5 separate regions of the Homo sapiens genome follow, and all the other regions are reported to be linked to region 2. The links are microRNA targets in miRTarBase. Many come from high-throughput screens and were not tested one by one. Region 2 holds a microRNA gene; each other region holds the end of a gene's coding sequence.

The links. The annotated mature microRNA hsa-miR-551b-5p reads GAAAUCAAGCGUGGGUGAGACC and lies in region 2 at 2,426-2,447, shown strand. An mRNA with a match to its seed (bases 2 to 7 or 8) in the 3' UTR can be bound and repressed. Matches are read on the target gene's strand: a 7mer-m8 pairs with bases 2 to 8, a 7mer-A1 pairs with bases 2 to 7 and ends in A, and an 8mer does both.
Region 1: the mRNA of GPR180 is a reported target of hsa-miR-551b-5p. Seed matches in the 3' UTR shown: 7mer-m8 at 4,527-4,533, 7mer-m8 at 4,108-4,114, 7mer-A1 at 2,118-2,124, 7mer-m8 at 2,050-2,056 and 7mer-m8 at 1,508-1,514.
Region 3: miRTarBase lists NSUN7 as a target of hsa-miR-551b-5p. Seed matches in the 3' UTR shown: 7mer-m8 at 1,486-1,492.
Region 4: the mRNA of TNIP3 is a reported target of hsa-miR-551b-5p. Seed matches in the 3' UTR shown: 7mer-A1 at 4,629-4,635 and 8mer at 4,587-4,594.
Region 5: the mRNA of PECR is a reported target of hsa-miR-551b-5p. Seed matches in the 3' UTR shown: 7mer-A1 at 3,970-3,976 and 7mer-A1 at 3,281-3,287.

The regions. Positions count from the first base shown.
Region 1 is chr13:94,625,583-94,631,707 of GRCh38, reverse strand. It overlaps GPR180 (G protein-coupled receptor 180), which reads right to left. Exons shown (of 9, transcript NM_180989.6): 8 at 5,665-5,742; 9 at 1-4,695. The coding sequence ends at 4,537. Among named protein-coding and RNA genes, the nearest start is that of GPR180, 27 kb to the right of the region's middle.
Region 2 is chr3:168,549,450-168,555,574 of GRCh38, forward strand. MIR551B (microRNA 551b) reads left to right here and starts at 2,405; the gene lies at 2,405-2,500. It also overlaps the pseudogene EGFEM1P.
Region 3 is chr4:40,807,489-40,813,613 of GRCh38, forward strand. It overlaps NSUN7 (NOP2/Sun RNA methyltransferase family member 7), which reads left to right. Exons shown (of 12, transcript NM_024677.6): 12 at 819-3,696. The coding sequence ends at 1,451. APBB2 (amyloid beta precursor protein binding family B member 2) reads right to left here. Exons shown (of 18, transcript NM_004307.2): 18 at 2,539-6,125. Among named protein-coding and RNA genes, the nearest start is that of NSUN7, 61 kb to the left of the region's middle. RefSeq lists an enhancer at 178-678.
Region 4 is chr4:121,127,676-121,133,800 of GRCh38, forward strand. TNIP3 (TNFAIP3 interacting protein 3) reads right to left here. Exons shown (of 11, transcript NM_024873.6): 11 at 3,733-4,987. The coding sequence ends at 4,956. Among named protein-coding and RNA genes, the nearest start is that of TNIP3, 34 kb to the right of the region's middle.
Region 5 is chr2:216,035,108-216,041,232 of GRCh38, forward strand. PECR (peroxisomal trans-2-enoyl-CoA reductase) reads right to left here. Exons shown (of 8, transcript NM_018441.6): 8 at 3,281-4,253. The coding sequence ends at 4,168. Among named protein-coding and RNA genes, the nearest start is that of MREG, 25 kb to the left of the region's middle.

The DNA.
Region 1 (6,125 bases), not on the chromosome of region 2:
ATAATTAATACTACACTGTTAAGTACAGATTTGGAACTTTTTCAGCATTGCCTTCATTCACTCAAAAATATTTTTGAGCATCTAGTATGCACCAGGGAGTGTCCTAGTATTAGGCATACAGCAATGAACAATAGAGACAAACTCACTTAAAATTTATATTCTAATTTGAGAGATGACAAAGATAAACCAGCTAAGTACAACAAACAAAAAAAGGGATAATATGATAGAACTAGGATGGGGGAATAGCATTAGGTAGGATGGTATGGTTAATCAGGGTCTGATCAGAAAAGAACCACTAGGATCTAATACACATACACATATCTTAATATTCAAAATAAGGGGCTTATTATAGGGATTATAGGAGGCGGTTTCTTTTGTGTCTGGCAGTTGGAAAGGGAAGACATGGGAAATGGGGGAAGCAAGGAACTTGCTAGGATGAGTAGAACCTGTGGGAACTGAGTGGAACTTGTGAGGATGGACTGGAAGCCATACAGGTCTCTCCCTGCCTCTAATCCTCCAGTGTGAATGATGGAGTTGTCCAGCAGAAGCTGGCACCCTTTGTCAGAGTAAAACGCACACCTGGCCCAGGAGCCAGAGAAGCTGAAGGAGCCATTCCGGCAGGAACTGGTGTTCCTGTGGGCCTGGCTGTTGTCCCACAGGCCAAGAGAAGCCAACAGATAAGCAATAATGTGGATAAGCTGCAACAGTGCCTTGTGCCTTGTGCCTTGTCTGGCCCTTCCTCTTACAAAAAGAATGCAGATCTGGCTGCTACTTTACTTCTGCCTTCTATATCTTGTATCAAACATTTCTTATGGCCTACATTGTCCTGAAATTATGCATGGAAGAGAATTCTGCAGAACCTATCTCCAGGTTGACTAAACTGCACCATATAAATCCACCACAGATGGTGAGTTCTCTAAAAGACATCTCAGCTGAGAACCTGAAGGATGAGGATTCAGCCTTCCAACCATGCTAAGATTTGGAAGAGAATGTCCCAGGCAGAGAAGATGGCTAGTGCCAAGTATCTGAGGGTGTGATATAAGCTAGATCTTTTTTTGATGAAGGACAATGAGGCTGGGATATGTGTGTGAGAGAGTGGTACAAATTAAGAGATAACCAGATCATATGGGCCTTGCAGAACATAGTAATGAGTGAGGACTTCTTTTCCTAAGTGCAATGAGAGGCACATGGAGGGTTTTTGTCAGGGAAGTAGTAGTTTGATCTGATTTATATGATTTTTAAACTTTTTGAAATAATTTCAAACTTACAAAAAAATTACAAGATTAGCACAAAGAATTTCTGTATGCTCATCATCCAGATGATTTCCATTTTTAAGAGATTGTTTTGGCTACACTGTGGAGAATGGCCCTAGTGGGCAGGATCACTTCTTTCCTCACCTCCAGGCTTCATGGCACTCCTACAGCACAACACATATGATGCCCCTGGAGCTGTGCAGAAGGCTGCCCAAGTGTGGACATGGTAATATTACTTAGAGAGCTATTGCAAGAAATCAAGCTACGGTGCTTCTACCACACTACTTTCAGATCACAGAGGAAAACCAATCTCATTATTTTAGTCTCAATTCACAAATACATGTTGGAATAAAAAACAGTATTACCTCTTCGTATCTGGCTACTTCTAACAATCATATCAATTCTCAAAACAAACAAAAAACAACCTCAATGATTTGATACCACAGAAGCTATTTAAGAAAATGTTTCACAGATAATTCCAAATTTCCAAATTCCAAAGAACGTGCAGTCTCCTAGAAGAAACATGCTGAAGGAGCCCATGTTCATGTTGATAGATAGGTTCTAGTCTCATTATTTTAGAGATGATCTCAGATTTGTGTATCTCCTATGTTCATCAGATGTGACTTTACTGGAGATAATAAATAATTACCCTAAAGCAAGCTCTTCTGCCTAGATTAACTCTCCTGCTAGTAATACTGTCTGGTTAAAAGCCAGGTTCAAATACTGAAGTGTGCTGAGGTCTTACAGATATTCAAGCGCATGTTCTGATTTTAGCACAATTCCAGTTTTAATGTTCAAATCAACAGCAAAAATTATGATGGATAGCAATTCATTCTCACTAAAACACAGCTAATACATGTTCCTTAAATCATGAAGGTAAAGTGGAAAAACTAAATAGTTTGATGACCTTAGAGAAATCATTTATTCTCTCTTATACTCAGTTAAATGGGAGCCTGGTTATCACAATAGAGATGAGTAATAATGAAGGTAAAATGCCTGGTAAAATGCATCACAGTAGGCACCCATCTTATTATACACATGTCAATAAAAATAAGCATCTATTTTTTAAGGGAAGAAAAGAAATGCTTCTTAATAAAGCTCTGGATGAACCATTTATCTTCTTTCAAAAAATGTAAAAACACATAAAAAAGCATTATCTGACAAAGAAAAGTAGAAAAGATTTTTATCTTTAATTAGAGTTTGTAGTATACACTTAACTTTCTGTAATCTGCAGTGATGAATCTCTATGTAAACATTCAGAAAAAGAGCGAATACTGTGTCATGACTTATGAACTATAAATTTTGTCCCTGATTACTAGTCAAGAACAGTTTTATACATTTATTAACAACTACTTTCCTCCACTTAACAACAGCTCTTAAATAACAAAATAAATTATCAGCATTTCCAACCATAAATTTAAGAATTAAAGTTTAAAAAACTGGTTAGTTTCATAAATGCAAGCAGAGTAATAAATTTCATATATGTTAATTGCAGTTACTTATGTTCTTTGAGTGAAGTAACACAAAGATTTTTCCCTTCCCCTTTTGGCAAGTTCACAAAATTCATGAAAAGTCTTCATCTTTTTCTTTTTTGCTTAATTTCTTTTTTGCATCTCAGCTGAACACAACAGACAATAGCTGGGGTTATTAGCGAGACATGATAAAAGAAAAGGTTATGACCACTCAGACGATCATGTATACCTAAAACATAACTCAGACTTTCTAGTCTTAACCTGTAGCTCTAATGTACTAAGTGATTTACAAAGAACTAATAGAGAGATGATTTAATGAGCAGGTTGAACTTGGTAACTTTGTCATTTTGGGTCACAAACACATATTCTGCCCTGAAAATGAGGCAGAATACTAGTCATTTCCAATGAGACTAGGTACAAAAGAAAAACAAAAACAAAGCCATAGATATTTTTAAGTTGCACTACATTATTTTAACTATTTAATTAAAAAATTTAACTACCAGATCAGTGCACTGTTGCTTGCTTAAACACACAGTAAATAGATAAAAAATATTTTTAAAATAAGCCAGAAGTAAAAAGGAAAAGGCCTGAACAGCTTGACAAACAGCAACAGAATAATTTCCAATCAGTGACTATTAATGGGAATACTCATTTTATACAGCGAGTATTGACAACCATTTAGCAATTCTTTAATCAGGCACTTGATATTTTTTAGCTAGCATACTCAATACTGGGGCATCACACACACACACAAAAGTATGGCTTTATTACAAAGGATTCAAGATGGCAACTACTTAGAATCCAGTGCCAACACGGATTATAACAAATCCAGTGAGTGTTTTGTTTTTCAATTATTCATAGAAAATTTAATCCTGATTAAGTATCCTTGGGCAGGAATTCATGGGTAGTTGATGACTGAAACCAACATTTATGTGAAATGCTTCTGTTAATTTAATCTGTGTATACGGCTTAATTATGATTGGGGATTCAACGTAAGAGAAATGAATTCTATTGGGATCAAAATTTCAGTACCATATCACATAGTACCTTTTCCCTTCTTTCTGTTTAAACACATAAACCTGCTTGTCCCTTCACCTAAGTGCTCAGATTTTAAAATCCTTTGTCCTTACAACCCGTGTAATGTATTTAAGTTTTATTTTTTCATAAACTGTTTGTCAAAAACCTTTGCTAATCAAGCTAAAACCTGAACTAGAGCCAAAAATGGCAGAAAAAATTGGAGAATAACTCCACCCACAAATAAACAAAAGCTTATTCATTTAACTGTGAACCTATTTTATATTCATTTCCTGAAGTAATTTCAATTCCTTTAAACTCAAATATGAAATACATTTTCCTTAAAGCATAAAAAGCAGCAGTTTTAAAAATCAATGTATTACACTGATTTCATAACTGGACTAGTTTAGATATTTATAAGCAAGTAATCATTTAACTGATTACTTTTTATAAGACTATTAAACCTGAGTTAGCTATTAAGATGAGGCATTATAAGTGGTGAATATTTTACCAAAATATCATAGTTATTTTTCACATTTATTTCCACATAGAAATCGCTTCAATAATTTTATAACAACACTTTCTTCAAAGTTTGTTGTTTAAGTATATTTCAAAACATTTCATTTATTACCTTTTTTTTCAGTCTTGGTACTGCTTAAATGCAGTTATATAAATAACATGCTCTGCTTTCGCTGTTCAAGTTTTCATACTAAATGTATGAAAAAAAAGTCACTGTATTTGGATCCTTATTGCACTCTTTTAACCAATTCACTTTTCCTCTCAACAAAAATCAAGTATCAGAAATGAGGGCGACTTTTGTGTCCAGATGATATGGTCAGTGGTAGTGTTACTGAAGAAAGTGAAGAAACTTCCCAGTATAGACTGTGAGACAGAAAGAGTCTGTAGAGAATAACCATGGAAACAGACTGGCAAAGGATAACACCTATTGTAATAACCTGAAAAGAAAAGGAAAGGAATGCTTTTACTACATGCAGAAATAGAGAAATAATATTCAATTTATTATGAATCTATATATGCTTTTTATATAAATACAATACTCTATCTTTCATCTTTACCATAGGTACATTTTATCAAAAAAATTTTCTGACTAATGCTCAGAACTCTAATTGTTTAAGGATAAAAATCCCTTTAACAGTTATTTTGTAGATGACAAAGTAAGGCACAAAAGAATAACTTGCTAAACCATTCTCTCCTAAGGGTATGCACTACAGACAAGTTTCAGTAAATAAGAAAAATCAGGTTCCTAGCTAATTTAGGAACAGGAATAAAGCACGCTCCTACCTGAACTTTAAAGAGTACTCTAAAAGCCCTTTCAAAAATTCTCAAGTTGCTTCTCTATTTTTGTAGACTACTGTCCTATCTATTCACCCTTTGTAAACACCTCAGGCTCAATAAACATTTGTGCATTCAGGCACATACTGCATTGCTTGTAAAGGGCTCCTGGCAGACCTCTATTTTGAAATGATGGAGCCATTCACCTAAGAAGGTAGGTATCAACACAATCAAAATGCATCATACTTGAGCATGGCACTCTGGTTTGTAGTCTGTTCAATAACTAGACTGATTTTTACAAATCTTGATTTTTGCTATTATGTAAGAAAAATTTTAATCATTTTTTAAAAGATGTATTATAAATTCTCTAATTTATAAAACAAAATTTCTATTTTAAAATTATCTATTGTAGTACAATCAAGAAAAGCTATTTCCACCATTTTGCTTATAAATATTTTAAAAATATTTTAAACTTCAAATTTATCTGCTTATTGGTTTACTATTTTGTTTCAAAGTTTTAAATAACCCAGAAAATGTCTTAAAAAATAAATAGGTCCCTCCTATTTAAATATTCTCCCAATTAAGACAATATTTTCATTAAGAAAACTACTTTGATCATGTATATTTCTTACCTTGTCTCTTTGGTAGTCGCTAAAAATGACAGAAATGCATGCAAGAACTGGATGGCATAAAAACCACAAGATACAGCCCTGAAACAAAGGAAAAAGTGAAATAAGTAGAACTGTGTAGCTTTTTTTCAGCATGTACCAGACAAAAAAATGTTACTAGCATTTTTAGGTTCTGATTAACCTCAACAGGCCTTTAGAGTACAGCCTGCAATAAAATGTAGAAATAAATTTACTGTTGCTGTGACATTAATATTTTGTTTCTAACCAAATGAGTATTTTTGGAGTATTTATAATCTTATGTTTATAAATCTGTTGCATACACATTTTGATACACTACAAATTATTAATATAAGTAACAAATTATTAAGTGACAAAAGCAAGGCACAAATGTGTAATATTCCTGTAAAAGAAAAAAGAATGTACATTCATATTTGCATGCTGATACACAAAGAAATCCTGTAAAA
Region 2 (6,125 bases):
TGCAGTATTACAATAAGCTAGGCTGAAGTTTGCATTTAAAATAGCAAAAAGGCAAATGTCTTCTATGTCACTGTCAACTATAGTTATAAATTGAGATCTGATAAAACATCAAAAAACTTTGTAAGCTTTAAAATATTTCTGTAGGGTAATATGACATCCCATGGTCTGTGTAAAAGTTAGCATGCTCTTTCTCTTGATATTTTCCCCTTAACTTTCTCCTTCAATTGGAGTACTTGGTTTTCAGTCCTCCAGTCATTACTCTGTCTCTGCATGCTGTCCTTGTGCTGTCCTGACTATATTTTTTGGTTTTAAAATCTAGGATCTTCAAGTCTATTTACTTCAAATTTACCATGGTTAAAATTGAGCTAATTTCCTACCTTCTTTAAATCTCTTTATGATTTCTCCTTACCTCTGAGTAAATGGTGTCATAACCACCACGTTCAGGGGGCTGGAAACCCATGAGTCCTCGTGCATTCTTCCTCAACATCCAATCCTCAAATTCTATTGGTGTTCATTGTTTTTTGTTGTTGTTGTTTTTTGTTTGTTTGTTTGTTTTTATCTTCACTGCCACAAGTCTGATTTTATACTCTCATTTTTCACATGAAAATGGCAACAGCTTTCTAACTAGCCTCTGCTGTCTCACCACTTACCGAGAAAACATCCAAATTCCCTGGCACTCACGCATGGCCTTTGACAACATGGTCCCTGCAAGTCCGATCTTTCCTCAGTTTTCTGGATCTCTCACCAGGTCCCCCCTTTTACCTGTTCTCTGGTGATAATGAACTTCCAGGAGTTCCTGGATCTTCCATACTTCTTACTTGCTCACCCTTCTTTCTCTTTCTCTCTTTCTCTTTGGAATGCCCTGTTTTAATTGCCCACTTGGAAAGTTCCTTTTCATCTGTTGTATCACTAGTTCCACTCCTCTACCCCACACTATGCATTAATGAAGGTCCCTTGGAAGGTCCCTATTATGTGGCCCATGCCCTTTGAGCAAATGCTACCTTGATGTAAAACTTTCCACAAAGAAGTTAATGTTGGTAAAGTGCCACTCGGAAATTAAAGCACAGTGCTTTGAAGAGTTAAATCCAATGACCTTGTAAAGAACTGGAAATTGTTAACAATGGTGCTGTCTGTCAAGGCTGGCATACTAGAGAGGCTCCGTGTGGACACCAAGATCTGAGCTCGTGAGGTAGGTGGGAGGGGGAGGCATGGTGATTATGGTAAATAGGGGGGCCCAGACAAGATGAGTCTTTCTGTCTCAGGAAGGAAAAAAAGATCACTGAAGAGTAAAGCTAGGGTACAGAATGGCAACACCAAGTTTAAGTGTTGATGCAAGGGTTGATGGCAATGAGATGAAGCTGAGCAGGGAACCAGGTAGAAATGGAACTGAACAGGTGCAGGGAGGCAATGGAGCAAAGAGGTTTCTGGGCCACTCTCAGGATCAGTCATGAAATGTCCTTAGCTTCTCATTTTTGTTGGAGGATATGTGGAGGCATAGAGCTTGGTCACATTGAGCTGACGCAAGTCACTGATTCCTGCAACCTCTAGTGATGCATTTCCAAACTCAGGTTAAAATGAAGGTCAAGAACTCCTGTTTTGCCATTTCTAAATTATTGGGATTAGGCTATGAGCTTATTTCGAGGTATTTTTCAGTTCTGCTATGCTATGACTCTGATTTTGTTTTTATTTGGTAATCTTATATGGACAATAATTGCATTTTGCAAATTTAAAAGTATCATGCCAACATGGTTTGTCTGTTACTTAGCTTTCATTTTTCTTTTAATGTTGGAAAATTGTGATACAAATTTATAGATCCTAAATTAACAAATTACTCAAGACTTTAGAATTTCTTAAAATGTTATGGTATGCTTTTTTTTTGAAAGCTCTACATTTTATAAAACCAAATTTGTCATACGAAGTTTTAGGTATCAAGAAAGAATTCTGTGGATTTTTGTGTTGTCAGGGTATCTTAGATTGTAATTTTATGTATTTTCCTTTTGGTACCTCATAAAAACTAGAAGGGCTTTCTTGAACTGCATACTTTGTCAATACAATTTGATGATGGAGAAAGACATTTAAGTCCAGAACGATTGGTGTAAAGTACACTGGGTGAGACTGTATAGTTGAATTTTCCAGATGATCGAAAATTGACAGTAAAGAAATATATACAAAATAGATTTTGAAAGAATTGTTGAATGTTTACCTGTCGCTACATATTATCTTGGATACAGTACAGATAATCCGAATGGAAAATTGCACTGAAAATGTCTTCCCCTGAGTTATATTTGCTGGTTCTTACATAAAATGTTATTTATACAACAGATTTTATTGTATCTTCTCTTGCTTTACTCCTTTATCACCTTCTAGCTAACTGTCCTGACTTCAGACCTCTGTTAGATCTGCCAGATGTGCTCTCCTGGCCCATGAAATCAAGCGTGGGTGAGACCTGGTGCAGAACGGGAAGGCGACCCATACTTGGTTTCAGAGGCTGTGAGAATAACTGCAATTTAGAGGGAATACCATTTATGTTTATGCAGGACTTCCAGAGAAAAAACAAAATTTATTATAGACATAAAGAATAAGAGATGAAATTCATGATTATATTGCATTTCTGTTCCAATGGGATTAAAAAAAAAAAAACACGTATTCTAAGTAAGTTGAACCAGGTTGACAGCTAATGATTTGATGTCTCTGTTAATGATTTTAAAACATTGTACAAATCCAAAACTGTTTACTCCTTCAAGGTATACCTCCTTTTCTCCCACTTCTCCAGCTATTGTGGTCCATTTGCCCTTGCTCTGGGCTAGTTCCTTGGTAACTAACAGAAATGGATGGACAGAGATGCCATGACAGGAGTATGGATTTTGCTGGGTCCTCATTTATGCTGGGGCATCTATCAACTCTTTTTCCAACATATTTTTGTTTCCCACACAGCCCCACTCACAGATGCTTGCCTATAGGGCCAAAAATCTCTAGTTAGCAATCTGCCAGAGTCCTGCTTTTTTGTGTAGGAGATTGGAGTTCTTTCAAATAACCCATCTGGTAAGATGTAGAGAAGTAGAGAAACTGAGGTAAATAAAATGTATATTGTTAAGTACTTTATTGCATACTTTGTACCTTTGCTGATAATTAATTTATAGACTATATCTGTTGAGCTGGTGTTGGTTAAGGTTGTATTTGCTTGTTTGTTTGTTCTATACTCTTTAAAAACTTTTGTGGGTGGGTAGGGAGGGTATAATGGTGTTGATGTATGTTGTCATCCCTTAGGCCAGAGGAACCATTTCACAATTACTTTTTATTTTCTCAACAAGAATTCTGAAGGCCTGTATCTTTGGCACAGAAAATTAAGCTATAAAGGCAAGTTCTGCCAAGTATATATTACATATCTCCTGGCCATGGATTTTGGTAGGCTGTGAGAAAAATATGAAAGTCATTTCCAAAGATTTATTTTGTATTTCCTTAATTGACTTTCATATTTGTAATACATTTTCTATTTATAAATGGTATTTCTTTGTTCCACTTAAGGTACCTTAATTTATAAACACACAAAATTAATCAAGGACATTTCCCCATTTTGTTAGGTTCTGAGAAGAATAAACCAAATTCTTCGCCAAGGCTTTTCCTTTTTTGGAAAATGCATTGGATAAACATGGTTTTCTTTGAATTATCTCAATGAAAGAGCTTCTCCCTGGACATTCTAAAGAAGTGCTGTCTGGTAGATTTTTCTGTGTTGACAGAAATGACCTACAATCTGCACTAATTTGACAGACATTAGCCACAAGGCACTTGAAAAATGGCCAATGAACTAAATTTTTAAATTTATATAGCAGCGTGTGATCAGTGGCTACTATATTGTAGAGCATAGTTCTAGAGTACTTTAGTTATTTAGATAATTTTTTATAGATTACAAGTTTACCAAATTCATCTTTATCAATTCTCTTATGAATTTGCTAGGTTTTGGTTAGTAGCTTAAGTTTATGTATTTTAGAGCAGTTTTAATACATCACCATGTGTTTTGACTTAGTACTTTTAGGCTGCTACTAAACCAAACACAATACCATAAATTGGATAGCTTATATAATTTTTTTCTCACAACTCTGGAGGCTGGGATTTCTAAGAACAAGGCACCAGCAGATTCATTGTTCAATGAGGGCCTGTTTCATGGTTCCTAGATAATATCTTCTCACTTTGTCCTTACGTGATAGAGAGGGCAAGCAACTCCTTCAGGCCTCTTTTATAGTGGCACTAATTCCATTCTTGAGGTGTCTGTGCCCGTGACTTAATCACCTCCCAAAGGCCTCCCCTCCTAATGCCATCAACTTGGAGGTTAGGATTTCAATATACAAATTTTGGGGGCAACACAAACATTCAAACCATAGCATTCTTATACAATAAACTACTCACAAAATAGAGAGTTAACTAAAACAATTCTCCAAGTTTTAAACAATTTATATGGTTGCCACTTTATTTTCTATGAAAACAAATTAAATTTCTGCTGAAAGCTAAAAGCTGGCCAATTACCAAGTGATCCCACAGTTATTGAGTGTTACTACTTGGACAGCATTAAATAAACCATTCTTTAAGTTACAGAAAAGATTTGAGGTGATTCCTCTCTTCAGCCATCCTACAGTCTTGATAGAAAGGCAAAACTGGCAGTTATGAAATAATTAAAAATAAATCAGTGCTAAACTCTATTATGTAAAATAGGAGTATAGATGAGGGAGAGATCAGTGTGGATCATAGTAGCCAATCTCTGCACTTTAAAGTTAAAAGGACCCTTAGAAATCATTCATTTGGAGTTTTAGAAATCATGAAATTGTATTTTATCAGGTTTACACACTCAAGATTTCACAGCCAGCTAATGACATGTCCAGTGCTTGAATAAAGGTCTCTTAACCCTCAATTTCGTGATCACTTTTTACTAGTTAGCCTTATACCTCCTCCTGGAGGAGTTTGTCCTTAACAATTCATTAAAAGATAGCTTGGGGTCAGCAATTATAGACCGAGTTCTATTGCAAATATCAGTTTCATCTAGCAGAGTGTTCCCCAAATTTTCGTTGTTTACTCAACACATTCATAATGTTTTTTTCATATCCTTCTACCATTTGTACTATTATTTATCCTTTTTTTATTTGAAATTCATTAAAAGGAAAATGAAAGGCCAGAATTATTTGTCATAAGTAAAAGATAACTAGGAAGTAAACACCTGAAAAATAAAAGCTAAGCTATAAATTCCCAGCCAGGCACTTTGTCTGCCTAAGCCAGAGGCCTGTTCTCTTTCTTATAAAGGAGATTAGTGAGTAATGGAAAAACATTAGATGCCATAGTCCTACATTACTATAAAGAGCAATCCTTTCCTTCACCTCCAGTTTCAAAATTGTGAGATTTACAAGGTCCAACTGTGGAAGCTAATATCTCCTATTGACCTCCCTGTGGCTGTTTTGTGACTGCCTTAGGAAGAAATTAGCCATGGACCTGCAGTTCTGCATGAGCTCATGTGCATGTCTGCATGAATTTGTGTGTCTGTATTGGTTGGTGGCGGGGGTTAGGGAATGGTGGTTACTTTTTAAATTATGCAATAATGGCGTATATTTCCTGATTTTCTTTCTTCATTAAAACAAAGCTCTTTTGAACTGGTTGCTTTTGTCCTTTACAAGGGAAAGTAATTGTATAGTTAATCCTATTTGTTTCTAATGTAATTAAATGGAATTTAGATAGATTATCTCTCCATATACAAACATGCAATTCTTATCATTTATAAAGCAAAAAAATAAAAACCCTTTTATTGTTTTTGGTGGAGCAGTCGGGGCACATTAGTAACTCTGGCTTATGTAAGAATGACATGCATTTTTCTCTTAAAGATGAAGAATGCTGTCAAAATATACTTTTAAAAATTAAGAAAAGTAAATGATTCCTACAAATATCAAGTGAGGATATTTCACAGCTTATTTAACCCATTGATGAGAACCCTCAGTATGGTGACTCAGTTTTAAAGAGACTTTGAAAAGCAGATATTTGTATAGTTAGTTTGGAAAAGTGTGATGAAATATGTTTGCTGAGTTAGAGAAAATGCTCATTAATGTCCCACAGGATAATAAAATCATAACCTTTGAACATATATTTTC
Region 3 (6,125 bases), not on the chromosome of region 2:
ACAGGCGTCCACCACCATGCCCGGCTAATTTTTTTATTTTTAGTAGAGACGGGGTTTCACCATCTTGGCCAGGCTGGTCTTGAACTCGACTTCATGATCCACTTGCCTCGGCCTCACAAAGTGCTGGGATTACAGGTGTGAACCACCGCACCCGGCCAGCCCTGTTCTTTATACTTCCCCCGAGTGTTCCTCTTCTGCCTGGCTGCCACCCCCACCTCCCCAAGCATTTTGTAACATCTAGTGCATCTTCCCTCATATGTAAGAAATAAGCAGCCAGGCATGGGGGCTCAAGCCTGTAAGCCCAGCACTTTGGGAGGCTGACGTGGGTGGATCACCTGAGGTCAGGAGTTCGAGACCAGCCTGGCCAACATGGTTCACTCCATCTCTACTAAAATACAAAAATCAGCTGGGTGTGGTGGCACATGCCTATAATCCCAGCTACTCAGAAGGCTGAGGCAGGAGAACTGCTTGAACTTGGGAGGTGGAGGTTGCAGTGAGCTGAGATCGCACCAGCCTGGGCGACAAAGCAAGACTCCATCTCAAAAAAAAAAAAAAAAAAAAAAAATCTGTGTGATTCTTTTTTTCTATCAGGTATCAGGTTCATAAATGGGGAAGTTTAAGTTTTTTTTTTGTTTGTTTTTTTAAAAAGGCATTCGCTGAGGCTTATGAGATTGGGGACTAAGGCCTAAAAACTATTTCTTATTTCTTTTAGTATAATAAAGAGAGTCTTTTTATTTTTACTGATACATTGATAAATATTTGCGGGAGACACAATAATAGCTAACTCCCACATTTAGTAAATGCTTCTTTAATTGCAGCGGGACCCTTCTGAGACAGTGTCTGTGAATGATGTTTTGGCCCGAGCTGCAGCCAAGGGTCTGCTGGATGGGATTGAGTTGGGTAAATCATCAAAACGGGAGAAGAAGAAGAAAAAATCAAAAACATCATTGACAAAAGGTGCCACTACTGATAATGGCATCCAAATGAAAATTGCTGAGTTCCTGAATCGAGAAACTAAAGCCAGTGCTAATCTATCAGAGACTGTAACAAAACCACCTCTTCCCCAGAAAAATACTGCTCAAGTGGGGGCTTCCTCACAGACCAGAAAACCCAACAAGCTGGCCCCCCATCCTGCAGTGCCTGCATTTGTGAAGAACACTTGTCCCTCCAGACCGCGTGAACGGCAGACACACTTCTTAAGACCTCGGCCAGAAGACAGAATGGTTGCTCTGAAACCCATCAAGATTGTTCTGCCTCCAGTCTTTATGCCATTTTCAAGTCCCCAAGGGATCAGATCTCGGATGCCAACTCAACATTTGTACTGTCGTTGGGTTGCACCCAAGGCACTTGTGCCCACCTGCCTTCCCACACACTCACTATCCAGAAAAGAGGAAAAGCCTAAAGATGACACACCTTCCTCCCTACTCAGGCCTCCTCGGCGATGGCTTTGATTGTCTTGTGTTTTTTATAGGGGCCAAAGAGCAGTTGATTTTTTTTCAAAGTCTAGTATTTCTCTGAAGATTCTACATCTCTACACAAGATATTCATTCTTTTGGTCACCTAGGGATCTTCTAAGTGTGATATTACTTTCAGAGAATTCAGACAAGTGAGAAACAATAATGTAGGAGTCAGCAAAGCAGAATTCAGAGACTTCAGCCAATCACTGCTGCTCTGAGAGGATCCAGTTAGAGACTCAGTATCAGCGGTCAGAACTTATCTCACTCCTGTGAACTTTCAGGCTGGACTTAAAGCTGCCAAGTTTCCCCTGCAGGGAAGGAAACACTGCCTCCCTTCAGCAGGTAGCTCATTAGAAAGCCAAACAGGCAAACGATCCTGGCCTCTCCCGCCAGCTGACCGCTCTTCAGCATCCATGCGGTTGTAGTCGTGACTTTCTCAGTCACGATCAAGGGTGATTTTTTCTTAAATATCAAGCTGTTCTTTGAACAGGGAATGAACATGAGTTTTTGTAACGTGACTGAAGTTGAGTTTAAGTAGGAAGCGCAGGAAGTTCCCAAGTGCCAGGTGTGTGTAGCTCAGAGTTCCTTTTACAGTGAGGTGTCTCTCACTGGGGGAGCTTCCAGGATCCTGAGCAGACTGGACACAATCATCTCTCCCTTCCTCTATGTCAAGCACTGTTACAAAAGACTGTGAGCAAATTTCCATCTAAATATTAATAATTCTGAAGAAGAGGCAAAACTGTTGAATGCAAGCGATACCTATTGTTGAAGAAACCCACAAATTTCTGATTCTAAGATCAGGGGATACAACAAAATCTACAAGTCATTTCAAATAGCACACAGGAATCAAACTTTGGTAAATCATTTCTGAGGCACAATTAAATATATTGTAGCACTATGTTAATTAATTATATTAAATGTCGATTCATCTTGAATGTATTCTCAATTGCCTACCAAAAATTGGTATGATTATCATTTCTGGGTCTACTGATTTTTCATCATGGCAACAGAAATTGTCATTAAATAGAATTAAGATACAACTATATATCTTATTATTTAAAAACATTCATAGACATATTCATAAAGTTTGAATTTAAAGTTTTATTTTTGCAATTCAGTTGTATAGAAATGTTACATAAATTCCTAAATGCTCAATTCAGGTGGCATGATTTTTAGAATATTATCTTCTTCAAGATGAATACTTAGGTCTACTTCAGCTCTGATATTCTATTTTTACTTTCTTACTTGAAGTGAGAAAAGAGAATGGTGAATTGTATTATAGCGGTAATACATTATTTTTATTTTAGCTTAGATTTACATTTATCAGTAAAACGTGTCAGTGGGCTGGGTGCAGTGGCTCACATCTGTAATCTCAGCAGTTTGGGAGGCTGAGGTGGGCACGCCACTTGAGCACCGGAGTTCCAGACGAGCCTGGACAACATGGCGAAACCCCAAAACCCCATCTCTACAAAAAATACAAAAATTAGCTGGGTGTGGTGGGACACGCCTGTAGTCCCAGCTACTTAGGAGGCTGAGGTACGAGGATCTCTTGAGTCCAGGAGGTGCAGGTTGCAGTGAGCCAATATTGCCCCACTGCACTCCAGCCTGGGAAGCAGAGTGAGACCTTGCCTCAAAAAAAAAAAAAAAAAAAAAAAAGTGTCAATGAAGAAAGGAAACAAGACTTTTTATAGTTGAACCAGGCTTATTGTATTTTAAATCCCTGAAGAAGAATTCTTCATGTTATCACTCTTGTACAGAAAGATATAAAGTGCTCAGCTTATTTTGCTGATTTTGAAAATCAAACACTATCTCCTTGCCCTAAAATTATAGCGTGTGGCTCATCCTCTTATCCCACCCAGATTTCTATCTGGTTGGTTAGGGTAGTCCATGCCTCAAGGAAGGCGGTGCAGCTTAATTTAACATATTGTTCAGTAAAGAATCCCATTGTGTATCATAAGAATCCCTTATCCTTTTCGGGCCCTCCACCATACCAGACTGAAAAGTATTCCATTGTCCAGAAGTAGCTGGTCTTGAGATTTTTATTTTCAAGTGTATTTTCTGTGATGTTGTCTCATTGTTATGGAATAGTTTAGGATAATTTTCTGATCTCTACAGTAGCATGTGAAGTCACAATTTGTTGCCACTTACATTGATTATCTCCTAACATGCATTTGGCACTAAATTATTTTTCTCTTTAGAAGTATATGAAGATTCTGAATTAAACCATTCATTAATTACACTGCAGTTTTCTTCTTTGAGAATCTTCTATGAAGGACAGGATTATTTAAATACTTTGGTAGAGTGAAAAGGGAAAAGAATTTTGGATAAAAGCAATATGAGGCCGGACGTGGTGGCTCACATACTTTGGGAGGTTGGGGCGGGCGGATCACCTGAGGTCAGGAGTTCGAGACCAGCCTGGCCAACGTGGCGAAACCCTGTCTCTACTAAAAATATACAAATTGGCCAGGCGTGGCGGTGCATGCCTGTAATCCCAGCTACTCAGGAGGCTGAGGCGAGAATTGCTTGAACTTGGGAGGTGGAGGTTGTGGTGAGCTGAAATTACACCACTGCACTCCAGAGTAAGACTCCTCTGTCTGAAGAAAAAAAAAAAAAGCAATATGAGGGAATTCTAATGAAGGAGAATATTGATTCCACTGACATGTTTCATTTGGCATTTTACATTCTTGGACTTCTTCTTGAGATAAAAGTGCTGCAAAATTCTAAATAATGAAATTACTAGTATTCAGATACTCCAATAGCAAACACATTTTTAATCTGAAATTATTTACCACCATATAATGCCTGAAACCATAATGAAATTTTGTTACTGACTAGAGAGAAACCACTGTGGAAGTGCAAGATGAACAAAAAGCGGGGACATACTTTAAATTCTGTTTATCTGCCTTCCTGCGCCTAACAGTTAAGCTAAACCAGATTCAACTGATTTCTCTAGTTACCTTTCATTTTGGATTTAGTGTGTGTACACCTCTATTCTTTATTCTTTGATGTCAGGTTCTTAAAGGAAGTGATAAACTTCTTCGTGCTAAAATATCACAATCCTAGCAAGACCGCTTACAAAAGACTCGAGTTGGTGACTAAATAGGCTTCTATGTCCGGAAGGCCAGCTGGCCTTCCTGATCACCAAATAAGTACAGGGTGATTACTCAAAATTTGAAGTTACTTCCTAGTTCTTACCAGGCAGAAATATGTAGTAACTAATCAAAGCAAAATGCTCCATTACTAAAGTGATTTCTAAGAAGTCTGAGGTAAGAATAATTTAAAAATAACTAGAGACACCGAGTTTCTATTTCTATTCCTTGTATATGTGACTAAGATGTCAGATAAATGAGCCGAACGTTTTATGCAGCTAAATTTATTCTCACAACAAATTACATTTAAATGTGTAAAAGTGGTCAACAGGAAAAGGGCATAAAGGAAAACAAAGCGTTCTTTCAGGGGAAGTAAGCTGCTCTGGAGGCCAGGAACTACTGCTTGCGTTGACACGGTGTGAGTGGGTATCTTTGCCCTGAAGCTGAAGTTAAACTTTCTACTGGCCGTGTGGCACACACGTTAGATGTGTATTAGGTTAAGCCTGGCCAACTAGAGAGCGAAGGGGCTTATTAGTTAAATTGTGCTAATATCAGTTAGGAAAATGCTTGTCATGTTGTGGTGAAATCTTGAGGAGTTTGTGTTGCAATGCCTGGGACATGAACGGGCCATACAAACAGAGGAAAGCTCTGGGGCTTCCAGGCAATGGCCTTGTGTCGAGTCATCTTACAAGTGTCCATCTTGAAATCATAAAGTGGATTTAAAAAGAAGTAGCAGTGCCACAGTTTATCACCAAGAACTTATTTTAATGGAAATGGGTCTAATGTCCCTTCATGCAACAAGACAGATGAACAAAAAACAATGGTCCTAATTAGCTATGAGTGATCTTGTATCCAGGTGGAAACAAAGGGCATGTGTACATGTATATATCTCTTAGATGAAATCACACATGTTGTGAAGGGTAGAAAAACGAAGCACCAAGCAGTGCTTTAGTCTGCAAAGGAAAGTTTTTAGCCATAGGCATGTTGGCTAGTCGTTCCCCTTGATGTTGCCAAGGAGCAGATGTATGAGGTGGCAAGTCTGTGTCTATCTAGCTGCTTTTAAAAAATAAAAGGAACTTTAAGCATTTTGCCTTTTCTTCTACATATCCCAATAGAAATGTGACTACAAATCATTACAAAACCACTTTTTAGGCAATGTATAGTTCACTGAGATTACTTAGATCTGGATACACTGGGAGATAATATCCAGGAAAGATAATACATTAACACAATAATGCAGTATATTTCAGTAAAAATAGAATAAATAAAATAAAAATATTTTAAGCTGTATTTAACAGGTTAATTAAAAATATGGTAAGACATAGAAGGCATCGTGAACATGGCTGCCTGTTTACCGAATCACAGATCTAAAGAATGCATAGATAACTGAAGTGTCACTAAGATATCAGGTAAAACATTGGCATCCTTTTACAAACAAATACACACATACTTTCATACATACTTTTTGGCCATGGCAGAAAGTGTCTGAACATACTCTTTAACATAATTTTACAAAATTAATTTGCATTTACTATACAATGCCATTTTCAAAACAAAACGTCTGCAAAGTTTTCAATAT
Region 4 (6,125 bases), not on the chromosome of region 2:
AGATGGGAAGAAAAATAGCAGAAATAAAAAAAGAGCAAAGGGACCTTCAAGTTAGGGGAATAATGTTTGGTAAACAACTCTGTCCTCCACTCTCAGTGTGCATTCAACCAAGCACAGTGCATAGAGACAGAGGCAGTATGAGATGTGGGCTGCCTAGACATTTTTAGAAATAAGTAGGTATTTAAATAATAATTGTTAAATTGATTTACAAAATTGGGAGGTCATATGTCTTTTAGATTTGATTCTATTAGCGACTTAGCCACATTAAAAGTGTTGACACAGTAGCCTTGTAGTATAGTTTGAAGTCGGGTAGTGTGATGCCTCCAGCTTTGTTCTTTTGGCTTGATACTGGTACCAAAACAGAGATATAGATCAATGGAACAGAACAGAGGCCTCAGAAATAATGCCGCATATCTACAACTATCTGATCTTTGACAAACCTGAGAAAAACAAGCAATGGGGAAAGGATTCCCTATTTAATAAATGGTGCTGGGAAAACTGGCTAGCCATATGTAGAAAGCTGAAACTGGATGCCTTCCTTACACCTTATACAAAAATTAATTCAAGATGGATTAAAGACTTACATATTAGACCTAACACCGTAAAAACCCTAGAAGAAAACCTAGGCATTACCATTCAGGACATAGGCATGGGCAAGGACTTCATGTCTAAAACACCAAAAGCAATGGCAACAAAAGCCAAAATGGACAAATGGGATCTAATTAAACTAAAGAGCCTTCTGCACAGCAAAAGAAACTACCATCAGAGTGAACAGGCAACCTACAAAATGGGAGAAAATTTTCGCAACATACTCATCTGGCAAAGGGCTAATATCCAGAATCTACAATGAACTCAAACAAATTTACAAGAAAAAAACAAACAACCCCATCAAAAAGTGGGTGAAGGACATGAACAGACACTTCTCAAAAGAAGACATTTATGCAGCCAAAAAACTCATGAAAAAACGCTCACCATCACTGGCCATCAAAGAAATGCAAATCAAAACCACAGTGAGATACCATCTCACACCAGCTAGAATGGCAATCATTAAAAAGTCTGGAAACAACAGGTGCTGGAGAGGATGTGGAGAAATAGGAACACTTTTACACTGTTGGCGGGACTGTAAACTAGTTCAACCATTGTGGAAGTCAGTGTGGTGATTCCTCAGGGGTCTAGAACTAGAAATACCATTTGACCTAGCCATCCCATTACTGGGTATATACCCAAAGGACTATAAATCATGCTGCTATAAAGACACATGCACATGTATGTTTATTGCGGCACTATTCACAATAGCAAAGACTTGGAACCAACCCAAATGTCCAACAATGATAGACTGGATTAAGAAAATGTGGCACATATACACCATGGAATACTATGCAGCCATAAAAAATGATGAGTTCATGTCCTTTGTAGGGACATGGATGAAATTGGAAATCATCATTCTCAGTAAACTATCGCAAGAACAAAAAACCAAACACTGCATATTCTCACTCATAGGTGGGAATTGAACAATGAGAACACATGGACACAGGAAGGGGAACATCACACACCAGGGCCTGTTGTGGGGTGGGGGGAGGGGGGAGGGATAGCTTTAGGAGATATACCTAATGCTAAATGACGAGTTAATGGGCGCAGCACAGCAGCATGGCACATGTATACATATGTCACTAACCTGCACATTGTGCACATGTACCCTAAAACTTAAAGTATAATAAAAAAAAAAGTGTTGACACATGAAGGCATCATTTATGCCCATGCTTGCATTATTTTAGTGCATTTTAACATTAGTATACACTTTTATTTTCCCACGTAGTAGCGCAAATGAGATACTACTTCTCTTAATTCAGGAGGCAACTTACAATTCCCATTCAATTTATAGTATTTTTAATCAAAATATTTTCTCCTAAGAAGTGTGCTCCTGTAATGCTACTTGATGATAACCCAAAAGAATCATAAAAATAAGTTGAGCTTTCCAAGGTAATCTACAAAGCAGAATTGTAGCACGCCAAAAACTGGGTGCTCCCAGGTTCAAGACAGTTTTGAATCTTGGCTCTACCATTTACTTGCCATAAGAACCTAGGGAAATTACTGAATCTCTCTGTGTTCTTGATTAATCATCAAGGCGGTATTTATACCTCTCCTGCTGGGTGAGAAAGCTCAGTAAATAAACTAAGGGAGATCATCTACAAGTTAGTTCATGCTCAATAATGCTAGCAATATAGTCCAAAATATTCTTTTTGTTGGTGAGAAAAGTGGAGCCCAAAACAAAACATAGCAAAGAGAAGTAGAGGCTGGCCTAACTCCCAGTTCTAACCAGACCCTGAAGGAAGGCTTTCACCTAACCATATCACAACCAAGACAAAGTAAAGACAACTTTCTCTTCATGTGAGACCTTCAATCAAAGATCAAAATCTTCATGATTACCAACAACCTAAAATACGCTTAGTTTTACATTTCCTAAGAACAGATCACGTGACTTCCTCTCCTTTCAAAGGGACATAGCTATTCTTCACACAATTTCCACAAGTTGTGTATTATTAATAATGAAGTAAGAGTCACAGCTCAGGGTATAACTCTTATAATGAGTTGAAGCAGAAAAGTCCCCAAACAAATGGTGTGGGTAGAGGGACACAGGAGAGGCTGGGTCACTCTCAGGACAGGGTTGTGAAATCCATCTTTTGGGAACGGCAGTTGCCCTGAGCAAGGGCTCCTCTTTCCACATTTGTAGTCCCCCACTGGAGTTCAAATTAAATTAGGTCTCACTTAAATTGGGTTTTCTCCCATTACATTAGCATTTCCACAATCTTGCCAACGTTTGGCAACTTGCTAATTAGTAAGAGGATGACTTTGGACTGGAGAGTTAAATCACATTTGCCTGCTGCTAAATAGGCCTGGGCCTGGCCTCTCAAGGAGTACTTTCTTGGGTGTTCGTTCAGTTTTTATCCCAGTGGGCGTACCTCAGTTGGCAAATTAAATCCACCACAAGAAATTGACATCACAATGACTTTTTCACTAATCTGAAATGCCAAAATGTTTCCATTCCTGGGTATTACTTCAGTATAGGTGAATCAGGAAAACAACAGTTAACAAGTCAGCAGCTGACTTATACTTACGCTTATACTTATACTGAAGTAATATCCAAGAATGATTTGTCTCTTTGATAAAGAGTAACAGAAACAAGATTCAGAAAATTAATGTAAGACAAGGATAATTCTTTGTCAAGAATTATGTTCCAGGGTTGCAAAGGGCTGAACCTGAAAATATTTATTTTCCTAAGGCTCTTTCATCTTCCCATTATACAGAGCTTCAGGTGTATCCAGATACTGGAATAATAATAATTTGAGCTGGAATAAAGTAGCATAATTTTTGGAAGCTGAAACTGGATAATTTTAGCAGTATGTTTGGATTGTTTTCTTCAACTGCATTTTCAGCTTTGCAGTTGCTTTAGGTTTACTTCTAGAAGCATAGATATCCAAGGATCTCACATTTCTTGTTATATGTATATATATATATATGTATATACATATAAATGTATAATTTGAGATCATATTTGTGAGAATATACATATATACACACACATATATATGTATATATGTATACAGAGGATCACGAAGAGGATCTCAAGTTAGTCCTAGCAGAATTCTTATTAAATGGATAAACTTAATACTTCTAAATCTGCTTAATCTTTAGACATCTGTCATGTCACTATAAGATTTAATTGCAATAAAATTTCAATAAATTCCATTTTCATTTTAATTGGCTTGAGAAGTCAGAATTAAGTTTTTCATTAAAATTAATCAAATCCAAGGGAAGGAAAAACACAGATTTAACTATAAATCCATATGTCTGAAATATTTCTGTAAGTATATATGGACACAGCATAGCCATATAGCCATCATCATCCCATCAGGACTTTGTCTTCCTTTTTTTTTTTTTTTTTTTTTTGGTGGTGTGGAGTGGGTGGGTAGGGGGCACTGAGTCTTGCTCACTCTATTTCCCAGGCTGGAGTGCAGTGGCGATCTCAACTTACAGCAACCTCTGCCTCCCTGGGCTCAAGTGATCCTCCCGCCTCAAGCCTCCTGAGTAGCTGGGTTTATAGGTGTGTGCCACGAGCCTGGCTAATTTTTGTATTTATAGTAGAGATGGGGTTTCACCATGCTGGCCAGGCTGGTCTAGAACTCCTGGCCTCAAAGCAATCCACCTGCCTCAGCCTCCCAAAGTGCTGGGATTATAGGCATGAGCCACTGCACCCAGCCCAAGACTTTATCTTTCATAATCAAGTCTTGTGATGCAGGCGCACAATTTCTCATCATCTTAAAGAAATGATCTGTCTAAGGAATAGCTTCCAATTAACCATCTTATTCAGATTGAACCACTTATTTAATTTAATGAGGTATATACACCTCTTCAATTCTACGTTTAGGATCACTGAGGTCAACAATATGTAGTCAAATAGCTAAAGAACTAAGGCCCTGTGGAAGAAGAATGGGAGCAATGTTAAACGTTTACAACTGCAGAAATTTTTACCCCAGGAAACACACACACACACACACACACACACACACACACACACATATGCACTTTAAATCAACATACAATATCCCTGCAGCAAACACTGAGTTGCCTAAATCATAGAATCATTTTTGTGCATCCAACAGCAATATGCTGAAGAGATTTTCAGGGAGTCGTGCATCATCCATCTGCCAAGTCTCATTTCAAGGAAACTGGAAGTTGTATTTGGTTGTATAATAACTGGCTCCTCCAATTTGATCAGGATCTTAGCTGTCAGAAGCCTTTTCCTGTATTCATACCAAAGGAAAACATGACCAGGCACAAATAACAGGGTAGATGATGTGCCTTTGTGGCAGAAACAAGCCTCAGTATAAACAAAGAAGAGGGTCCTCAGCCACGCTCCCTCGTTGCCTGTTGTCTCTCTCTGTTAGTGTGTACTTCTACGGATGGACTTTCTTTACTGAGGATAAACCTATGGAAAACAGTAGGAAAATGTTTTAGATTAAAAATTAACATTTCATTTCTCTTCTTCTGGCTTAAGGCTGACATAAAGTTCCAGGATGGCAAAAAAAAAAAAAAGTTATGTTATATTCATAAGCTCCCCACAAGTTTACACTGAGAAATCAAGAAGCGGGAGATGGAGGGTTATTATTTTAAGCATTGACATATGCTTACCATTTTGTGAAATAAGTTGTGGCCTCGTTCTAATTATGCCTGAGGAGGAATGTTCTATACTAATTCTCACTCTTGCTGGCATTTTGGCTTGGGCATGTGAAAGTAAGTCATATATATGACTTAGGTTAGGTTCAGTACTTACCCCAGAGAAAGAAAACTTGCCAAATATGATCTTTTAATATATGGTACTGGGTACATTATTGCCAAAGCTATGGAAAATATCCTATAGAAAGACTTGTTGGTGTATCATGAAGACCAATATGAAAAATCTGGAATATTTTGATTGAGTACTATTTGATAATGAATACTACATGAAAGACAAAGTCAAATAAGTTTACTCATGGCAACAGGAAAAAATAATCATAGAAATGCCAAGAAACAAAGAGTTATCCTTATCCCTGATAACTTAAAAATATGCTGAATGTTTTGTACTTGTTGTCCTCATTTGGTATACCAAAGATGTGCTAAACTAACATTTTGGTAACAGAAAAAGCAAATAGGAAGATAATAAGTTACTTTTCCAGGCTGAAAAATTATGTTGCTGAGGACTGTGGTCACTATGTTAAAAAGGTATCTAATATGTTGAGAACATAAATTTGAACTCAGAAGCATAAATTAATTGATCTAACCAATCTGAAGTTAACATTAAATAAATCCACTAATGATACCTCTCCCTAGGTATCTTAAATATTTTAAAATTAACTCCTTTTCAATTTGTACAGTGCTCTTGTGAAACAGGCATAGAATTAAAGATCAATAGCCTGATATTTTAGATGGAGAGAGGCTGTGGCCAATGAGATAATCCACGGCAGAATGGAAATCTGAACAAAAACAAAGATAGGTCTTTAGGTTCTTGAAGGGAAGGCAGAATTTCCCTAAATGTACAGTGAAGGTGGGAGGAGGGCCTTAATCCACTGTAACTGGTGTGTGTGTAA
Region 5 (6,125 bases), not on the chromosome of region 2:
TCCTCTGTTCTGAGAAAATGGATCTGGGTCCTCTAAGTTGTTCCCCTGAGCCAGCGGGCTCTGAAGCTTTGTTGGGAGAGGGTGATGGAGAGACATTGGAGGAGGAAGAGGGTTTTGCTTCCTGACCCGTGCAGTGCAGACTGCTTCACAGGAGTGCTAAGGAGCACCAGCTTCCCAGCACCTCCCTCAGGGGGTTTTGCATCAGAGGCCTCTGGTAGGACACTTCTCTGTACAGTTTTCCCCAGGATGCCAGAGGGCAGGTTTCTAGCAAGTTCCACCAGCAGAGCACCACAGTGACTTCTCTGCCCTCCACTGATTCACAGCCATGCCCTCCCTACTCAATCTGGGTGTCAGCCCCAGGGGTGCTATGGAGGGCTCTTCTTTTTTTTTTTTTTTTCGAGACAGGGTCTTACTCTGTCACCTAGGCTGGAGTGCAATGGTGCAATCTTGGCTCACTGCAATCTCCGCCCTCAGGTTCAAGTGATTCTCCTGCCTTAGCTTCACTAGTAGCTGGGACTACAGACGCCCGCCACCAGGCCGGCTAATTTTTTGTATTTTTCATAGAGACGGGGTTTCACCATGTTGGCCAGGCTGGTCTCAAACTCCTGATCTCAGATGATCTGCCCACCTCAGCCTCCCAAAGTGCCGGGATTCCAGGCATGAGTCACTGCGCCCAGCCAAGGTTCTTCTTTGAGCTCTCAGTCTTAGTCCTAGTGGTGCAGGCTACTCCTGATATCTGCTATTCTCATGTTCAAGTTCTTTTTACTTCCTACTAGCCAGTCCTTCACTACTCCAATCTGCTGTGATAATCACTCTTCACTTTTAACTTGCCCTGTTCAAATTGCTGTGTGGTTTCTGCGTCACTCCTCATAGTGACAGATACCTCTTCCAGGCAAGAGTTTGTCTTTCCTGCCTGCAGGGACTCAGACACCATGACTATCTGGGGGCTATAGAAAGCCTGAACCATAGGCATGGAATCCCATGGGGCATAGCATCCAATCAGGTGACTCACCTCCCAGTGAAGGAGACGAAAGAGTGAGCCCCTGGTTGTGGAACCACTGTGTATCCACACCCCGCACCATCCATAGGCAGCCAGCCTCATAGAGGGCTTGAACAACCAAGACCCAGCTGAAGGGCCAGGATGGAGTGCTTGCTGTCTTCAAAGATGCATGTCCCCAGTAGGTTTGGGACCATGTCTGGGATCCGGTAGATGAAACTGGGAGTGGCCCTGCATTCCATCATTCCCAATGATCTGCTGCAGGATTTAAGGAGAATAGCAGCACTGGAAATCCTGGTGCCAAAGAGGGAGGCTCTTGCCAGGGGACATAAGGTCCCAGTGAGCTACAAACTATGACTGATGCTGGAACTGATCTCTGAACTCCCTTTGTCCAGGCACCAGCAGGAGGAGAGAGAGTTACTTTTACACTGTAGAGAATCCACATGACCCACTGAGCGCCTGCTGGTATTCCTGTGGGCCACTGTAAATGTCAATGCATACTTTCAGCAAGCCTGTCTTAAGAAAGCATCACTTTGCTGCAATCTGAGATGCCTCCTGCCCAATCCTCTCTCCCCTCTCTTTTACAGGGGTCAGCCTTGCAGCATGGTCTGAAGGCCATCGCTGCCTTCTCTGGCTCCCTGCCCTTATCCTTCATGGGCCTGGTACCCAATAAGTGTCATGCAAATCTCATTATGTCTGGGCACCTGCTTTTCAGAGGACCTGAACATAAGCCACAAAGCATAAGATTAGTGTGGGGGAGGTATAATGTTCACAAGGGTCATCTTTATCAACAAACTCTTTTTACATAAATATAGAATTTTCATTTTGTTTCCTGTCTTTCAGTTATATGCCGTGGACATCATGGCCTTATCCTTTATAGCACTCGTGTTCTCTCTCTTTCTCTCAATCTCTCCCTACTGTAAGCTCAGTAAGGACAAGATACATGTGTATTTTTTCACCATTGCATGTCTGACTCCTAGCATAATGCTAAATACATAGTAGGTGCTCCAAATTATTAAGCCTATTCAAGAACAGTCACTCTACAACAAAATTTACTAAGCGTAGTTGCAAAAGTACATTATTGACAGGATACTATTATGATGTACATAAGAGTCCTGGATAATAAATTCATAATTCTAAAAATATAGATAATGACCAGCTGTCCAGTGATAGTCTAAGAAGAAGCTCTAATAAGCAGTTGTACCTAAGTTTAGTGCTACATAGGCAGGTTCTGTCCCTTAAGCAGAAATAACTGGCAACGCTATGGAGATTTAAGGAGTCGATGGCAGTCATTAACACAGGTCATGTGAAAGCAAGCCCTGCCTTTTCCATCTTCTCCACCAACCTGTATTAGGGCCACTTTTCCCTCTAACATGGTTTGTAATTCTCAGTTGTTATGATATTATCAGTTCCAGAAGGCCACTGTTAAAGGGCTATCTGGGAGGAAAATGAAGCTTTCTGATCTTCCCACATTATTAGTATGAGCACAAAATTGAAGGACACACTCACTCTCAGGGGCAATTCTGCACTGGCACAAACCTGACAATGGAGAATAGCTCCTTAAATGCTGCACCCTGGGCACCTCATTAGCCTCTCCCTCGTGCTAGCCCTGCTTGGGAGCATGAGAAAGCTGCAGATTCTGGGTCCCAAACCCCAGAGCTTGGTAACTCACACACTTTAAAATGAGGGTAAATGACAGGCCGGGCGTGGTGGCTCTCACCTGTAATCCCAGCAATTTGGGAGGCCAAAGCGGGCAGATCACTTAAGGTCAGGAGATCAAGACCAGCCTGGCCAATATGGTGAAACACCATCTCTACTAAAAATACAAAAATTGGCCGGGCGTGGTGGTGCACACCTGTCATCCCAGCTACGCAGGAGGCTGAAGCAGCAGAATCACTTGAACCCAGGAGGTGGAGGTTGTGGTGAGCCGAGATTATGCTACTGCACTCCAGCCTGGGTGACAGAGTGAGACTCCATCTTAAAAATAAATAAATAAATAAATAAATAAAGTGAGTGTTAATGATAAAAAAAAGAAAATAGCTACTTCACCTCAGATACTTGAAAGAACTTTGATTAAGACAAAGAATGAACATATTCAATCTGCTAAAGGCATTTCTTCAATAAGGGTCTAACTATCAGACTGGAGCCACGGAAGGCAGAATATGGAACCCTAATACATTTGCATGCAACTGAAATTTTGTTTTTGCCTACAAAAGGAGATACATGGAAAAAAGGGAATACTTTGGACAGAAAATCAAGACACAAATCAGGCACTGCCAAAAATAAATCACATAAAACTTTTTCTTTGAATTAAGAGAATTTATACAAATTTGACTTCATAAACAAAAGAAACTATACATCAATAATTACCATAAGGCATTATTGCTCCTAAAGTATTTGCCACCAAAAATAAGTCATTGTATAATTCTAATTTTAATAATCTTAATTACGACACAATTTAGGTTTATTTTCTACCTTTATAATTTTGTTGTTGTTGTTTGTTTTTGTTTTTTGGGTTTTTTTTGAGATGCAGTCTCACTCTGTAGCCCAGGCTGGACTGCAGTAGCATGATCTCAGCTCACTGCAACCTCTGCTTCCTGGGTTCAAGCGATCCTCCTGCCTCAGCCTCCCAAGTACCTGGGACTACAGGTGTGTGCCACCACACCCGACTAATTTGTGTTTTTGTTTTTGTTGTTTTTCAGTAGAGACAGGGTTTTACCATGTTGGCCAGCCTGGTCTTGAACTCCTGACCTCAACTGACCCGCCTACCTCGGCCTCCCAAAGTGCTGGAATTACAGGCGTGAGCCACTGCGTCTGGCCTCTACCTTTACAATTAAATAATAAAATCTTCTGGGAGTTCATGATCCCTAGAATTATCATTGATTTAAAATTATTCCATTTTTCAAATACTTTTCTTAGAAATAAAAAGTAAAGTCATTAAAATATGTTAATTTCTGTTACTTATACATTTTTAAATCATAGGTTAAAAGACTCTGATTGGGACATAAGACTGTATATATTTCAGGAATAGTTTTTCCATAGATATAATTAATAACACTTAAAAATAAGAAAAATGTTTTCCATACCAACTATAAGCTTTTAAAAAGTACAGAAGCATATCCTCAAGATGTGAAGGCACTGGGGGATGGAGGACACCTTGTTTCCTCAGCTCAGAGCTTAGCTTTCTCCTTAAAGGTCTCCTTCATCTTTTTGACAACAGAAAGGTCCCCTGCTCCCTTGGGCCAGTTGTCATGATCTGTTAAAGAAGTGGAAAGCCTCCTGTCACTTGCAAATCTCATTTGCCCTCTTCACTCCCACCAAATCCTCTTGTTAATTTCCCTGGTTCACACATTTTCTCAGCACCAAAAAATAAATCCTTAGGGCAAACATTTGAGAAAAGACTTCAATTTGAATCTCAGGTCTGCCACACGTTAGCTTTCCTGAATTTGGGCACATGTCTCTTCCTGAGCCTCAGTTTCCTCCTCTATTAAAGGATACAACAATATCTACCTTTTAAAGTTGTGAGGGTTAAATATGACACCATGTGTGCAGTGCTTCGCATACTGTGGATCGTCAATAAATAGTGTCTCCTTAATAATCACAATTTAAAAATAGTGTCCTTACTTTGTACCAGGCACTGCTACTTGCCTCTCCAGCATCCAGGTCCCCATCTCTTCTTTCCAACAGCTTGTTTCCATTTAACGATCTAGAAGGTGCCAGGGAAGCTTGGCACCAAGGCATGTGGTCTAAGCTAAGTCAGTCAGTGCACTATAACCCCGCCACAGTTATTGGTTGGAAATGGACATTTGCATAAGTTGATCGAATATAGAGTGGATCTCAGAATTTTGTTAGAAATTCTGGAACAAAGTCACTCCTCCAGCCCTCTCTCTGTGCATCTGGGTATGAACACAGAAGTATCAGCCTTACACATAGAAACAGCAGGCAGCCATCCTGCAATGAGGAGAGCCTGCCTTAAGATAGAGCCAACACCATGGAGGCAAAAACAGGAAACAGGGGAAAAACTTGTCCTTGATGAGATCAGTGAGCTACTAAGTCAAGTCTTACCTGTTTTTCAGTTATGTGCCAGCGAATTCCTTTACTGATGAGCCCATTTTGAGTTGTGACTAAAAGCATCCAATTCGACAAATGACTTTATTTTTTTAATTTTTATTTTTTGAGACAGGGTCTTGCTCTGTCAGCCAGGCTGGAGTGCAGTTGTGCAATCATGGCTCACTGCAACCTCGACTTCCCGGGCTCCAGTGATCCTCCCACCTAAGCCTCCCAAGTACAGGCACATGCCACCATGCCAGGCTAATTTTTTAAATGTTTTGTTGAGACGGAGTTTTGCCAGGTTGCCCAGGCTGGTCTTGAATTCCTGGGATCAAGCAATTGGCCCACCTTTGCCTCCCAAAGTGCTGAGATTACAGGTGTGAGCCATGGTGCCCAGCCCCTGACATAGGGATTTAAATGTGCATTATCTAAGGCCAGGCACAGTGGCTCATGCCTGTAATCCCAGCACTTTGGGAGGCCGAGGCAGGCGGATCACCTGAGGTCAGGAGTTCGAGACTAGCCTGGCCAACATAGTGAAACTCCATCTCTACTAAAACTACAAAAAAATTAGTGGGGCATAGTGTCGGGCACCTGTAATCCCAGCTACTCTGGATCCTGAGGCAGGAGAATTGCTTGAACCTGGGAGGCAGAGATTGCAGTGAGCCGAAATCATGTCACTGCACTCCAGCCTGGGCAACAAGAGTGAGACTCTGTCTCAAAAAAAAAGAAAAGAAAAAGTCCCTTATCTAATTTAATCCTCCCAACAGCTCTATGAAATAAATACTGTATGTGTCCCTGCATACAGGAACAAAATAGAGGCTTATAGAAATTAACTTTCTCACAATCATACGGCTAATAAGGGTAGAGCCAAGTTTCCATCTTAGGCATTCTCACCTTGGAGCTGCCAATCTTAAAAGAAAACACCATAGTGAAAGGCTGAATAATCTCATTATTCGGGGGGCAGTATATTCTTAAAAGATAGATGTACCCGCTTTCCTCAAAAACTGAAAAAAATATTTTTAATGATAAAAAGTGTTAGAATTACAAAAGAAAATCATGTCACTGAAGGCCTAAGGAA